2 separate regions of the Homo sapiens genome follow, and region 2 is reported to be linked to region 1. Evidence: microRNA targets listed by miRTarBase, many of them from high-throughput screens and not tested one by one. Region 1 holds a microRNA gene; the other region holds the end of a gene's coding sequence.

Evidence for each region. Region 1 holds the annotated microRNA hsa-miR-30d-5p (UGUAAACAUCCCCGACUGGAAG, at 5,315-5,336, shown strand). A microRNA usually pairs through its seed, bases 2 to 8, with sites in the 3' UTR of a target mRNA and lowers its output. Matches are read on the target gene's strand: a 7mer-m8 pairs with bases 2 to 8, a 7mer-A1 pairs with bases 2 to 7 and ends in A, and an 8mer does both.
Region 2: the mRNA of MZT1 is a reported target of hsa-miR-30d-5p. Seed matches in the 3' UTR shown: 8mer at 6,222-6,229 and 8mer at 4,611-4,618.

The regions. Positions count from the first base shown.
Region 1 is chr8:134,803,131-134,810,254 of GRCh38, reverse strand. It overlaps MIR30D (microRNA 30d), which reads left to right and starts at 5,310; the gene lies at 5,310-5,379. It also overlaps a transcript of ZFAT not described here.
Region 2 is chr13:72,703,905-72,711,028 of GRCh38, forward strand. MZT1 (mitotic spindle organizing protein 1) reads right to left here. Exons shown (of 3, transcript NM_001071775.3): 3 at 4,463-6,441. The coding sequence ends at 6,418. It also overlaps the pseudogene RPL21P110 and the pseudogene RNU6-80P. Among named protein-coding and RNA genes, the nearest start is that of MZT1, 20 kb to the right of the region's middle.

The DNA of each region.
Region 1 (7,124 bases):
AATTTTCCTCCAGGTGTGGACTTTGAAAATTAAATATACTTATTGAAACGTAGGTTGCGTTTATATAGTGCTACCCTCCAGGATTCTTGGAAATTTAAATGTATTATTGTATGTATGAATCATGGAACGCACTATAGAATCTATAGTGGTTATCAGTTTTGTTTTGGGTGTAGTTCATGGTGTTTAGTTAAGTCTCTAAAGCAGAGTTTAGGATCTCTGCCTTTCAGTTATCTGAGTGCTGTGGGGCTACATACCCACTCAGATTCTCTTGTTCTAAGTGGTCTTAACACTCAGTTAGCTCTATGTGTTGGTGGTGACAAATTTTACTATATTTATGACCTAGGTCTTTGAGTGGGCACTGTTTCAAGAATCTAGGAAGGTACTGGCTACTATTCAACTCACTGTCGGTTTCAATTATGGTCAGAGAATTTTGAAAACAAAAATTCTGAATGCCCTATAGTTTAATAAAAAGTAGTTGATCCTTTTGTTCAAAGCACTGTCCCACTTCACCTCCCCTCTAGGTTTGAAGCATTCCTATGCAGACAGTTTACCGACATGATAAACAAAATTATCCATTCATGCATCCTAGGATTTTAATGTTACCATCGCCCTCCACTCAAAATGCAATATGCATTTAGTCTGTAATAGCATCACTCCATTTTAAGTGAATAGTTGTTTCAGCTTTGATTTGTAATCACAATTAAGGTAAATTATCCTTGTTTGCCTAGGACTGTCCTGGTTTTAAAACTCAAAATCTCTTGTCCAAGGAACCCTCACAGTCCCGGACAAACCAGAACAATTTCTTAAAATACTATTTAGGAAAACTGGTCACCCGAACGGCAAGGCTGTGTTGTTGATTAGGCTTTAGGCATGTTATTGAGACTATAGACTAAGCTCAGATCAATGGTTTTGAAGATTCTGTATGGGTCAGGATTACCTGGAGTACTTGTTAAACAGACTGCTGGCTCCCATCCCCCTAGTTTGGATGGAGTAGGTCTGTGGTGGGGGTCTGAGAATTACTTTAGTAACAGTTGCCTAAGCCATGCTGACGCTGCTGGTTAGGAGAGTGCATTGAGAACCACTGGCCTAGATCAGGCTGTGTGCTGTGTGAGTATATGATGATGCTTGGTTCAGAATTGTGGAGAAAGGGGAGCTGTGTTTCTCTGCCTCACAGGTCTAAGCACCAATAACACCAAAGGGTATTTGTATCTGAACTGTGCTCATACAGCACAAGAAGAGACGTGCTCCTGTTAGAGGTGACAGAAGTAGGGGAAGGATTAAAAACAGTCTAGCTGTCAAATCCTTCACAGTATGGATATATTTTGATTGTTTATAGTATCTTAGGCAAACTTTGATTTGATAATTAATTTGAGTCTTATAGTCACAACATCTGAAATGGATACTTCAGAAAGCAGATATTCATTATTATAGCAGAACTGATTATAGCTGGGTTTAGCAGGGATAATGGTACCCATCTTGCCTACTTCTCAGTTATCACTGTAAAAATCTAGTTACATAAAAGGTGTGAGCATGCGGTACAAATAAGATGTCATGGTGATGATTAAAGTGTACTTTGTTGTTGGACAGTATGTTTCACAGTGCTTTCATCTTCATGTTCCATTTGGTTGTTTTCAGGTGTCTTCAGAATTCGGCAAAGTAGATGGGACTGCAGACGTTACCATTCCCTGTGACTCTTGCTACGATCTTACAGACTTCATTGTGCTGGGCTTAGATGTCTTCAGAGTCACCAGGTACTTGGTTGTTCCTAGATAGTGGGCCTGCCTGATCAGGATTTGGTATTTTTCCCACTGAATTAAAATTGTTTTGCCTAAGCCTCATTTTGTGTGTCAAGAAAATAAAGGCAAAAGAGTAAGTGCTGTGCTCCTAATCCACAGCTAGCTGGTAGTCAGCAGCCTGGGAGGCTGAGTCTCTGGTCTCCTAGTCTCAACCTTCTAGGCAGTGAGCATTGTTAATCACAGAACAGGCCCTCCTTGGACTCCTTGGCTTGCTCGTCTTTGTTTCTCCCAGGGCCTAGCGTTCACATCCACACACATACTACATACGTTTCTGCATGTGTGCATGTGCATGTCAGGGAAACCACAATTTGTTCTCAGCTCCTTACTCATGTGAGCTTAGCGAAATCGTTTCTCCAATCTGTACCTTCTTCTTCATCTGTAAAATAGAATTATCATCTGCTCTGCTACTACCCTTAAAAGTAGTTACTGCATAAGGATGAGAAAATGTATAAAAACACTTTGAAGCTTTTGTTACAAAGGGCAGTTAGTAATAATGAGTAAATGATAAATAAGCCTTATAGAACAGGAAGCCTTTTCATCTTTCTGTCCTAAACACCCTTCTATTTTATAAATTTTTCAAGTAGATTAAGTTTATTAATTTAGATAATGTTTTCTTTTTCTTTTTGTCTCTGCTCTATTTATTTAACATTGGATATATAGAGAATGGTAATTATTATTGAATGGATTGAAAACAAGAATAGAGTCTCTTTGGGAGTATCTGTGTTTTTTGTTTTTTTTTTTTTCCATGTAATTGGGGGCATTTTCTGCTCCATGGTCGGTTTCTGGTGGTTTGTGAATTCTTGCCTTCTGCCAAGTGTTTTCTCCCTGTCACCACCCTGCTACTACTCTTTGTGTTTACCTTCCCAGCTGCCCTGCCTTATTTCAGAGTTCAGAGTCAAATTGTAGCCAACCATTTCTGACAGCCTTCCTAGACATCACTGAATTTCAGCTAATTAATAGATTTAAGGGATGCGAAATCTAGGCCAATTCAGAATTTTACTTCATTTGAGGGTTTTTTTTCCAGAATATTTATCTTAAGTTACAAAATGTTGTTTCCTGTTAATTGTTTTCTTATGTATTCTGGTAAAATTTTATAAACCCAGTAAAACTCTCTTACAACAATACTCTTGGGAGATAATGGCTTGTATTCGTTCTGGATTGTCACATAGGAAGAGATGTGTTTAGGTATCTAACTTGGTTTCAGCATTGTACTTGAGACATCTGTGGTAGGACAGAATCTGTGGCAAATGTGGCATGGCATACATTATATATGGATATTCATAAACTGCTTTTGATAGATTGACAAACATTTCCAGTTACTGAACCAGTAGCACTGTTCCAGTCAGTAGCTCAGTAATATCCATTTTTTTGTCTGTACAGCAGATTGTATGTATGCATGTGTGTTTTGCCCATTTTTATAAAAATGTGTTAAAAGTAAAATGCTAATGCTGATAGAAAATTGACCCGCAAATATGTAATGTTTTTGACAAAGATGGAAATCATAAAGCATGCCAAAAATGGTAAACCTTTAGCTTCAGCTATCCCCTCATTAGACTTTACCTTCTTACTGTGTATTATTACAAAGATTGTGTCTAGAAGATACTTTATAATGATAGAAGGTATTTTATAATAGGGTTTCTTATCACATATACTTAATATTCAACTTCTGTACATTTAATTTTCATGTTTCCTCAAGAATATATTATACAAAGTCATAGCATTTGACAAAATTCCTTCATAACTCTGAAGAAAATATTCTATGTATTGTTTGTGTGAGTTAAATACAGTGGCTCTGATAAAAATGTCTTTTGATCAGTCTTTAAAAAAATTAAACTGAGGACAGGAAGGTAAATTAAAGGGGAGATTTGGAGACTTGTGGTAACTGGTTTATTGCAACTTAATGTGCAGCATCCTCATTAGTCAAGTATCATGTGCCTACCTAGGCATGAAATAGCTATTTTTTTCCTGATTTAAATCTGGAAAGTTTCAGTTGTAGTACAGTTTGAATAGTTGTTGTTGTAAATAGCCACTGGACTTTTTAAAAAAGTATTTTTCTTCAAAAACAGTGAAGGTCATCTTGTATCCATAGAGACCACATGTACTTTCCTCATTATTTCCAGCATTATTTATATAATGGGTAGAGTTATTTACAACATTAAACAAAAAGTATTTCAGAGAGCAACCGTTAAATATTATCACAGGGTAAATATCAGCAACTGAAATCCTTTTCTCATAGTTTCTCAAAAAATTTGGTATTAGGAAATTAATAGTCTCTCAGAATTTGTATATTGGTTTTCTTCAGTAGTTATTCTGTAGAGTGTGTGTGTACATATGCATGCTCATGTATGTATGTATGTTCATTTCTTAAATCATTTCATAAATCACTGTGACTTAATTGTGGACTTTAATTGTTTTCATAGTTTTTTTCCCCAAAAGAAGGTTACTTTACATATTTTATTTTATTTTTATTTTTATTTTTTTTGAGACAGGGTCTCACTCTGTCGCCCAGGCTGCAGTGCAGTGGCATGAGCTCAGCTCACTGCAGCCTCCACCTCCCAAGCTCAGGGATCCTCTTACCTCAGCCTCCCGAATAGCTGGGACCGCATGCACCACCACACCCAGCTAATATGTTGTATGTTTTTAGAGGTAGGGTTTTGCCACTTAGCCCAAGGCTGGTCTTGAACTCCGGGACTCAAGCGATCTACCCATCCACCTGCCTCGGCCTCCCAAAGTGCTGTGATTATAGACATGAGCCACTGTGCCTGGCAATTTTACATATTTTAAATTAAAGCAAATCTTGGTTTTTGATGGAATGCAGATTTACTTATATTTCACTTAGTCTTTTTCCTTTCTTTCAGAAAAGTGGTGTGGAAACAAAATGGTTTTAGTATATTGCCTTATAAACAAATTTAAGATCATGAGTTTCTTTTATTATCCTCTTTGTTTTGCTCATTTCCTTGAACTGTACATCCCTAACCTAAATCAGCTGGAGACAGGGGAAGAAAGTGTTAGATTCTTACTCAGTTTAGATCCTCTGCCAGGAAAACCCACTCTATTCATTGTCAACTAAATTAACGCTTTTTTAAATAAAAGGAGTCATTTTTAACAATAACGTCAGGGCAGCAGGCATCCATGAAATGTATGGTCACTGATCATTAGGGTTATCATTCTAATGTGTTTACTATTTTGAAACTCTAGGGAGAAGAAAACTTATTTTTGCATATGTTGGAAAAATGTATCCTCATGTAGGATATCAGGGTAATATCTTTAATGTTTCATACTTACCAAGATAAATTTGTAATGCGTATTTTCTTTTAAAATTAGATTTATTTAGGAGAAATTGCACTTGGTGAACCACTTTCTCTTTAATTATTAGCATTAACTTTATCATTTTTGTTTCAAGATGTCACAGCTATTGTTCAGCACTAGAAATTATATAAATTATTAGCTGAAGATGATGACTGGCAACATTTATGTCTGTTCCTCCTCTTAAATTTCTTGTTCAGAAAGTCTGTTGTTGTAAACATCCCCGACTGGAAGCTGTAAGACACAGCTAAGCTTTCAGTCAGATGTTTGCTGCTACCGGCTATTCACAGACATCCTCTTGATATAATTCTGTCCCGGAGTGGAGTTGAGGAGGCTATAAAATGTGTGGGAAAACCTCAGAAATCTTTAGCTGCATTCTTTTACTGCACTGACAGTGCACGTATTATGATAGTTGAATGTAGGGTGCTCTCCTAATAACAGGATATGCCGTCTCGAGCTTCCCAGACTTAGCGTGCTGCTGCTGGGCCTTAGAGAATTTAGTTAAATAAAAAGTGTCACCGCCTATTCCTGTTTCTGCCCTGTCAATGAAATTTTAGTCTTTATAACCTTTCCAAGTAGGCTGGAGTTTAACATCCCAACAATTCAGGAGACTGATTTTCTCCATTGTAAATTCTGTGGAAGTTCTGGAGAATAATTTCATCACTACCACCCAGCAGTATGCAATCTAGAAATTTCAGCTTTCCCTATACTTAAAAGAGATGTGTGTGCAACATTTTTCTCCGTCCTCTTAGCCCCCCACTTCCTGTTCCCCTCACCCTGAGTGATATTACAGCTCCTAATCAGAACTCTCCTCTAAGAAAAACTGCAAGACGTCAAGCCACTAAGCCTGTTTACATTTGCTAATGGGTATGCATGTCTTTTTATATTAATATTTTTCCTAAGTATTTTCAGATTGTTGCTTTCAGATTTATTGCTTCCTCCTTAAAATATAGCTGCCCTGAAAGCAGCTGTATTGTATCTATTTTTTGTGTTTCCCCACAGATCTGAATAATCCAGGGCTTTTCTCACAGATGACACTCAGTGTGGACTAATTGATAATGTATAATTTTATAGCAACTATTTTCTGAGTTTTAAAAAATTGTTATTTTATTTCTGTTAGTCTTTCAGACACTGGAAAACATTTCTATTTTATTGGCATTTTTCTTTTCAATAAAGCATTGGTTTTTTTAAATCATTTATTTTTATTAAACTGCTAAACATACTATGTTAGGTTCCATACATGATTAAACCACCAAAAGATAAAGGTCTTGCCAATCTAATGTATTTACATGCTTATTTTCTTTGATTAGATTATAAGCTTTCTGAGGTCAGAGACATTAAATCTTGATAATTCTATTTTTTCCTGTTATAAACAGCAAGTAAAGCACCTTGCATGTATAGTACTTTAGTAATGATTTTATATTATCTTATTGCAGCAGTGTCTACTGTTGCCTCTTATCTTTTATCCAGATGAGCAAATGACAGTTTTGGTCATAATGTAGTTACCCCAGATGTATTTGTGCTACAGCTTTTATTTTTTAAATGCTCTTTTGTTAGAGTAGTAGTTTATAAGACTTATTTGGGGATGGGGGTCAGTTGCTTCAGACTCAGGTGGCTTTCCAACTTGTAAATACAATTTTCAGGCTGGATGATTAGCATGCATCAAGCATCCCTTCCTATGAACTCTAAATAAAGCAGATTTATTGCATATTCTGTGGCCCTCTGTTTTAGCACATTGGAAACCTTAGACTCAAATAGCAGTGAAAGGATAGTTATTGCTGAGCTCAGAAGTCTTCCCTGCCAAAGGTAGAATGTAATGTGTTCTGTGGTAATAGGATTATTTTGTTTGACCAGGTGACACTGTTTATTTCTTATGAAAAATTTTGATATACTGCTTTAAAATTTAGTAAGATGGATGCATAATTTATGCAGTGAAATTTGAAAGGTTTTTCAAAATGATAAGGCCAAACCTAAGCTAAATGAGGGGGTAGGCATTCTTTATAATAAAGCTGTTATACTCTG
Region 2 (7,124 bases), not on the chromosome of region 1:
AACAAGTTAAGGGCAAGATTCTTGCCAAGAGAACTAAGAACACATTAAGTACTCTAAGAGTTGAGACAGCTTCTTGAAACATGTGAAGGAAAATTATCAGAAAAAGAAGCCAAAGAGAAAGGTACCTGGGTGCAACTGAAGTGCCAGCCTGCTCCACCCAGAGAAGCACACTTTGTGAGAACCAATGGGAAGGAGTCTGAGCTGCTGGAGCCTATTCCCTATAAGTTCATGGCACAATAGGTGTTAAAATAAAAGACCTCTGGACTGCTAAAAAAAAAAAAATTCTGCCCTATTCTAATGGACAGTGTCACTTGTTAACAGATTTCCTGAGACTGCTATTTAGGGCTGTCACATGCACCATCTTTTTTTTTTTTTTTTTTTTTAATTAAAGTTCTAGGGTACATGTGCACAACATGCACGTTTGTTATATATGTATACATGTGCCATGTTGGTGTGCTGCACCCATTAACTCGTCATTTACATTAGGTATATCTCCTAATGCTTTACCCGACCCCCTCCCCCCACCCCAGGACAGGCCCCAGTGTGTGATGTTCCCCTTCCTGTGTCCAAGTGTTCTCATTGTTCAGTTCCCACCTATGAGTGAGAACATGCGGTGTTTGGTTTTCTGTCCTTGAGATAGTTTGCTGAGAATGATGGTTTCCAGCTTCATCCATGTACCTACAATGGACATGAACTCATCCTTTTTAATGGCTGCATAATATTCCATGGTGTGTATGTGCCACATTTTCTTAATCCGGTCTATCATTGATGGACATTTGGGTTGGTTCCAAGTCTTTGCTATTGTGAATAGTGCCGCAATAAACATATGTGTGCATGCATCTTTATAGTAGCATGATTTAAAATCCTTTGGGTATATACCCAGTAAAGATGACTGGGTCAAATGGGATTTCTAGTTCTAGATCCTTGAGGAATCACCACACTGTCTTCCACAATGGTTGAACTAGTTTACAGTCCCACCAACAGTGTAAAAGTGTTCCTATTTCTCCACATCCTCTCCAGCACCTGTTGTTTCCTGACTTTTTAATGATCGCCATTCTAACTGGTGTGAGATGGTATCTCATTGTGGTTTTGATTCGCATTTCTTTGATGGCCAGTGATGATGAGCATTTTTTCATGTGGCTGTTGGCTGCATAAATGTCTTCTTTTGAGAAGTGTCTGTTCATATCCTTTGCCCACTTTTTGATGGGGTTGTTTTTTCTTGTAAATTTGTTTGAGTTTTTTGTAGATTCTGGATATTAGCCCTTTGTCAGATGAGTAGATTGCAAAAATTTTCTCTCATTCTGTAGGTTGCCTGTTCACTGTATGGTAGTTTCTTTTACCGTGCAGAAGTTCTTTAGTTTAATTAGATCCCATTTGTCAATTTTGGCTTTTGCTGCCATTGCTTTTGGTGTTTTAGACATGAAGTCCTTGCCCATGCCTATGTCCTGAATGGTATTGCCTAGGTTTTCTTCTAGGGTTTTTATGGTTTTAGGTCTAACATTTAAGTCTTTAATCCATCTTGAATTAATTTTTCTATAAGGTGTAAGGAAGGGATCCAGTTTAGCTTTCTACATATGGCTAGCCAGTTTTCCCAGCACCATTTATTAAACAGGGAATCCTTTCCCCATTTCTTGTTTTTGTCAGGTTTGTCAAAGATCAGATGGTTGTAGATATGCAGCATTATTTCTGAGGGCTCTGTTCTGTTCCATTGGTCTATATCTCTGTTTTGGTACCAGTACCATGCTGTTTTGGTTACTGTAGGCTTGTAGTGTAGTTTGAAGTCAGGTAGCGTGATGCCTCCAGCTTTGTTCCTTTGGCTGAGGATTGTCTTGGCAATGTGTGCTCTTTTTTGGTTCCATATGAACTTTAAGGTAGTTTTTTCCAATTCTGTGAAGAAAGTCATTGGTAGCTTGATGGGGATGGCATTGAATCTATAAATTACCTTGGGCAGTATGGCCATTTTCATGATTCTTCCATGAGCATGGAATGTCCTTCCATTTGTTTGTGTCCTCTTTTATTTCGTTGAGCAGTGATTTGTAGTTCTCCTTGAAGAGGTCCTTCACATCCCTTCTAAGTTGGATTCCTAGGTATTTTATTCTCTTTGAAGCAATTAAAAATATGGAACACTTCACGAATTTGTGTGTCATCCTTGTGCAGGGGCCATGCTAATCTTTGCTGTATCGTTCCAATTTTAGTGTATGTGCTGCCAAAGTGAGTACCACATGCACCATCTTTTTTACAACATTTACAATACTCCAGTCTGGTATATATGAGCCCAACAGTGAACTTCATAAAAGAGAGATCTTTTTGTTGTTAGAACTGGGTTTCTCAAGTATAGCACCTCTGGAAAGGGAATGACTTTAACCTGTTATTTATTTACATTGTTGTAATTAAAAAGCAGTAATATAGATCTGCTGAGATGCTACAAAACTTCACCAACCTACCATCATCAATGGTATATTCCCTAAGAATGGGACAATCCTGGGAAAGAGAAGCATCTGTCACTAGTCTTCTATTAAATTCTCAGCATCTACATCCAGAGCTTCGACTACCACTTTGGCCATCTGATTTTCAATCTCCTTCATCTTCCTCTCCAGTTGTGCCTCTTCATCCCATGAGATGATGTATAGTAACAGGCACTAAGGTGTGTGGGCTCCAGACTCAATTTACCAGGGTTCAAATCCTGGCTCTACCACTTCTGAGATTTAAGTTGTATACCACTTTGTGCCTCAGCTTCCTGACCTATAATAGGATGATGCTATCTATCTCTCGTGGTTGCTGTAAGCCTAAAGGTTAAACAATTTGATCTATTAAAAGCACCAAAACCAGTGCCTTGCATGCAGCAAGTTCTCAATGTTAGTTATTTTCAACCACGTGGTACATGTTGTTTCCTGGATGCCCAGTCTATCCATTCATTCAGCCAACATGTATTTATTGAGCATTTCTTATGTGCTAGGCACTGTTCAAGACACTTAAGATACACCAGTGGCAACACAGAAATATCCCCGCCCCTGTGGGACTTTCAGGTAGAGGTATATTTGTTTATATTAATAGATAAAACTAAGTAAATTGTATACTATGTTAGAGAGTGGTAATGCTGTAGGACAAAAAAAAATGGAGATGGGCAATGGTCTTTGGAAGATTGGCAAGGTTTAAGATTTAATATATATGTTAAACACAATACTCTTTAAATAAAAATCATTTTTTTCCAGGAAAATTATATTCCCTTCTTGATTTCCATTTGCTGATAATATCTTTGTTACCCAGGCTTAGAAACTCAGTCACCTTATTTTCTTTTCTATTTTCCCCATAACCTGCCATTAAGTCCTATGTTTATTTTTTGTAATGTCTCTTGAATCTACCCAGATGTGAGCATTGAGGCCTGGGTTACTCAGTAGTGTTCTAACTAGTCTCTGCTTCTAACCTCTCCCTGCTCAAATCAAGCCTACATGTCACTAGCAAAGCAACTCCCAAAAAAAGCTTGACCATGTCCCCTTCTTTCTCTAATGCCTATGGAATTAAAGTTAAACTTAAAAAAAAATGTTTAAAAGCTGGCAATTCCACTGCTGGGTATACACTCCAAAGAACTGACAAGGACCTGAACAGTTATTTGTATACCAATGCCCATAACATTGTGGCTATTGTGAATAGCCTTTTCAGAATAGACAAAAGGTAGAAACAACCCAAATGTCCACCATATATATAAAAGAATACCTGTCTCCCATGTATATATGAGACATATTCATCCTTAAAGAGGAAATCTGGATACATGTTATAACATGGATAGATCTTGGAGACGTGCTGTGTAAAATAAGACGAACACAAAAGGACAAATATGATTCCACTTATATGAGGTATCCAGAATAGTCAAATTCATTGACAAAAAAGTAGGAAACTGTTTACCAGGGGCTGGGAGGAGGAAGCAATGGGGAGTTACTGCTAAACAGGTACAGAGTTTCAGTTTGGGATAAGAAAGTTCAAGAGATGGACAATAGTGATAGTTACAATACAATAAGAATATTCTGAATGTCACTGAACTATGAAACTTAAAAATGGTTAAAAAGGGCAGGGCATTGTAGCTCATGCCTATAATCCCAGCACTTTGGGAGGTTGAGGCAGGCAGATCATCTGAGGTCAGGAGTTTGAGACCAGCCTGGCCAACATGGTGAAGCCCCGCCTCTACTAAAAATACAAAAAATTAGCCAGGTATGGTGGCAGGTGCCTGTAATCCCAGCTACTCGGGAGGCTGAGGCAGGAGAATCATTTGAACCCAGGAGGCGGAGGCTGCATTGAGCCAAGATCATGCCAATGCACTCCAGCCTGGGTGACAGAGTGAGACTCCATCTCAAAAAAAAAAAAAAAAAAAGGTTAAAATGGTAAATTTTATGTTCTGTATCTTTTGTCCTATAGAAACACAAGTTGAATTAACAAAAGCATATATTAAAACAAAAGTACAGGCCAATACCACCAAAATGGTTTTATTTTTGTCATTGACAACAAGCACAACACTGCAATTGTATCATTATTTTGTTTAGTTTCTTAAATATTACTTAAGTATGCATTAAAAATATGTTTACATTTTAAAAATGTGACACTTTAAAGAAGTCCTCTGTAAACACGATCCCTTCTCAATATATTTTCCTGCTTTGTTTCATACATAAATAACTTAATCTACAAAGTCATAAATAATACTATCAACTCTTATGGCCTGGAAGTATATACAAATTTTGGAGTCTGACAAAAGTGTTCTTTATGATTTTATAAATAACACATAGTATTTGTAGTGTTGATTATAAATCAAATGACTTTTTACAAATTCCTACTGTCTCCTCAACCTGTTCTACCAGTAACAGATCTTCCAGTTTACTTGGTTGGTAAAGATGCCAGGCATTTAAAAAGTCAAAATGGTCAAAATTCTATATTAAAAAAAAAAAAAGGCAGAGAAGGTTGCTATTTAAATATTACCAAATCTTAATAAAACCACTTCAGCTTGTCTGAAAAACAAAAAATGCTAGTAAAGAGTGAATGCTTGTACAATCATATAAATGGTACTCAATAAAATCTAAAATTTAAGAAATAATAAAATCAGATGAAATCCATATTAGTTTTGCAAAAAAACTCCACTGAGATTCTATTACAGGAACAGAATCAATACTATTCTACATTTTCTAAAATTTATTTCTAATCTTCACTTTGATGAGTTAAAATTTTAAAGGCAAGAATAATGACAAACAAAACAATTCTGAAAAGCCATACTTATAATCCTTGACATCAAGATGTTAAAAAGGTTTTTTAAAAAAAGCCATACTTGAGATTCCTAATATAGAACATTTGATTGTTTAGTTTTGTTTAATGACTGGAAATCCTTATTTCTTCAAAAAATAGCAAGTATCCTTTGAAACACATCACCCATCTAATAAGATTGTTTAGTTTTGTTTAATGACTGGAAATCCTTATTTCTTCAAAAAATAGCAAGTATCTTTTGAAACACATCACCCATCTAATAATTTATTAAATAACCATTCAAGATTTATTAGGTAAGCACTAAAATTACTTTTATGTAATAAAAGTAAATAGGAATTTTGCATGTTTGTTGTTTCATTTTACAAATTTTTTTATTCCGTTATTTATAGGATATAAAACTTTAAGAAAACATTCTCAACTAACATTCTCATTAGATGTAAATGATTCAAATTACAAATAATACTAACCTAAGCATTGTCATTACTTTTAAAATCCAAGTTTCTCAAAGTTTGATTTTTTTACTCAATACAAAAATGACCTGGTTCACACTATTAGCTGCCCAACAAACTGTTTGAAAAACTAAATATTCTTTGTTCAAGAGTAGATTACAAGAAATGTTTTCCATGCTCTTATTTCAAAAAACAAGATTCTGATATACATAATGAATCTAAATAAAAATTCACAAGTGGTGGCTGAAATCCTGTCAACTTTCAGCCCAATACAATATAAATCCACAGTTATAATGCATAAACAATTCAAAATTAAAGTTTATAATGGAAATGTCAACAAGTCATAACTACTACACATTACTACTGATGGGTTCCACTATACTTCAACCTGGCACAGCAGATGTGCACATCTGATAGACAGACTGCTTAGAAAATTAAAGCTATCAGAGCTATAAATAAGGAATACATAAATATGAACATAGCAATGCCAAAGCATTAGAGCTGTTAAAAAAAGTGAATAAGATGTGATGTAAACACATCTGATAGTTCTCTCTGTAAGCCACTTTCCACTGATTTATAAAGCTATGGTTTTATAATTCTTTTAAAAAGTAAAATTTTTCTACACTGCTGCATGCAGTAATTTCATTGTACATTCTCAACTACAATGCAATCTTCAAACCCTCTTGCAGAGCTTGACATATCTCATCAGAATTTCTCCAGAAAGTCAGCTTGTCATATTTTCAGCAGCCTAGAACAAGAAAGTAAGATTCATTACAATAAAACCATGGAAAAAGAGGCATCATGAAGATAAATTTGTCAATACTGCACTGTCATTAACAAACAACTATTCCCCATAAAACAGAACCACTTTTATCACAGTAATGCAGTGCTTTTCATGTTTTGCTATACATCAGGACTACCTTTTGAATGTACAGTTAACAGTCCACAGGCTAACAGTGGAAAATAGTTATATCACCTAAAATAATAGTTAAGAGCACAAAAAACATACTGCTACTTGAAACATTAACCTATGGCAGACCTGTTGCCACAGACTTCATTAGTTTGTCTGTTTCTGTGTTTTATTCTAGTAATAGGGATTAAAAATGAAAAAGACCTTTCATGCTACAAGGCAGAGAGAACAAGAGCAAAAGATGAATAATGAACATCTTATCTAATCCTGTCTCATCTACATCCCTAACTACTACTCTTTCCCAGGTGATTCTGAAGAAATTCCAAGATACCATATCATCAATAAATACTTTGATACATTATTTCTAGAGACTTAAACAAATCACCATACTATTATCCTACCTAAAAAATTTCTTAACATCAATATAAAAAGATATAATTTTAAATAAGTTTAATTTTAGAAATATGTGTTAGTATTTTAATTCATTTACCTTTCTAACTCCTTTTTATAAGACCTACCTA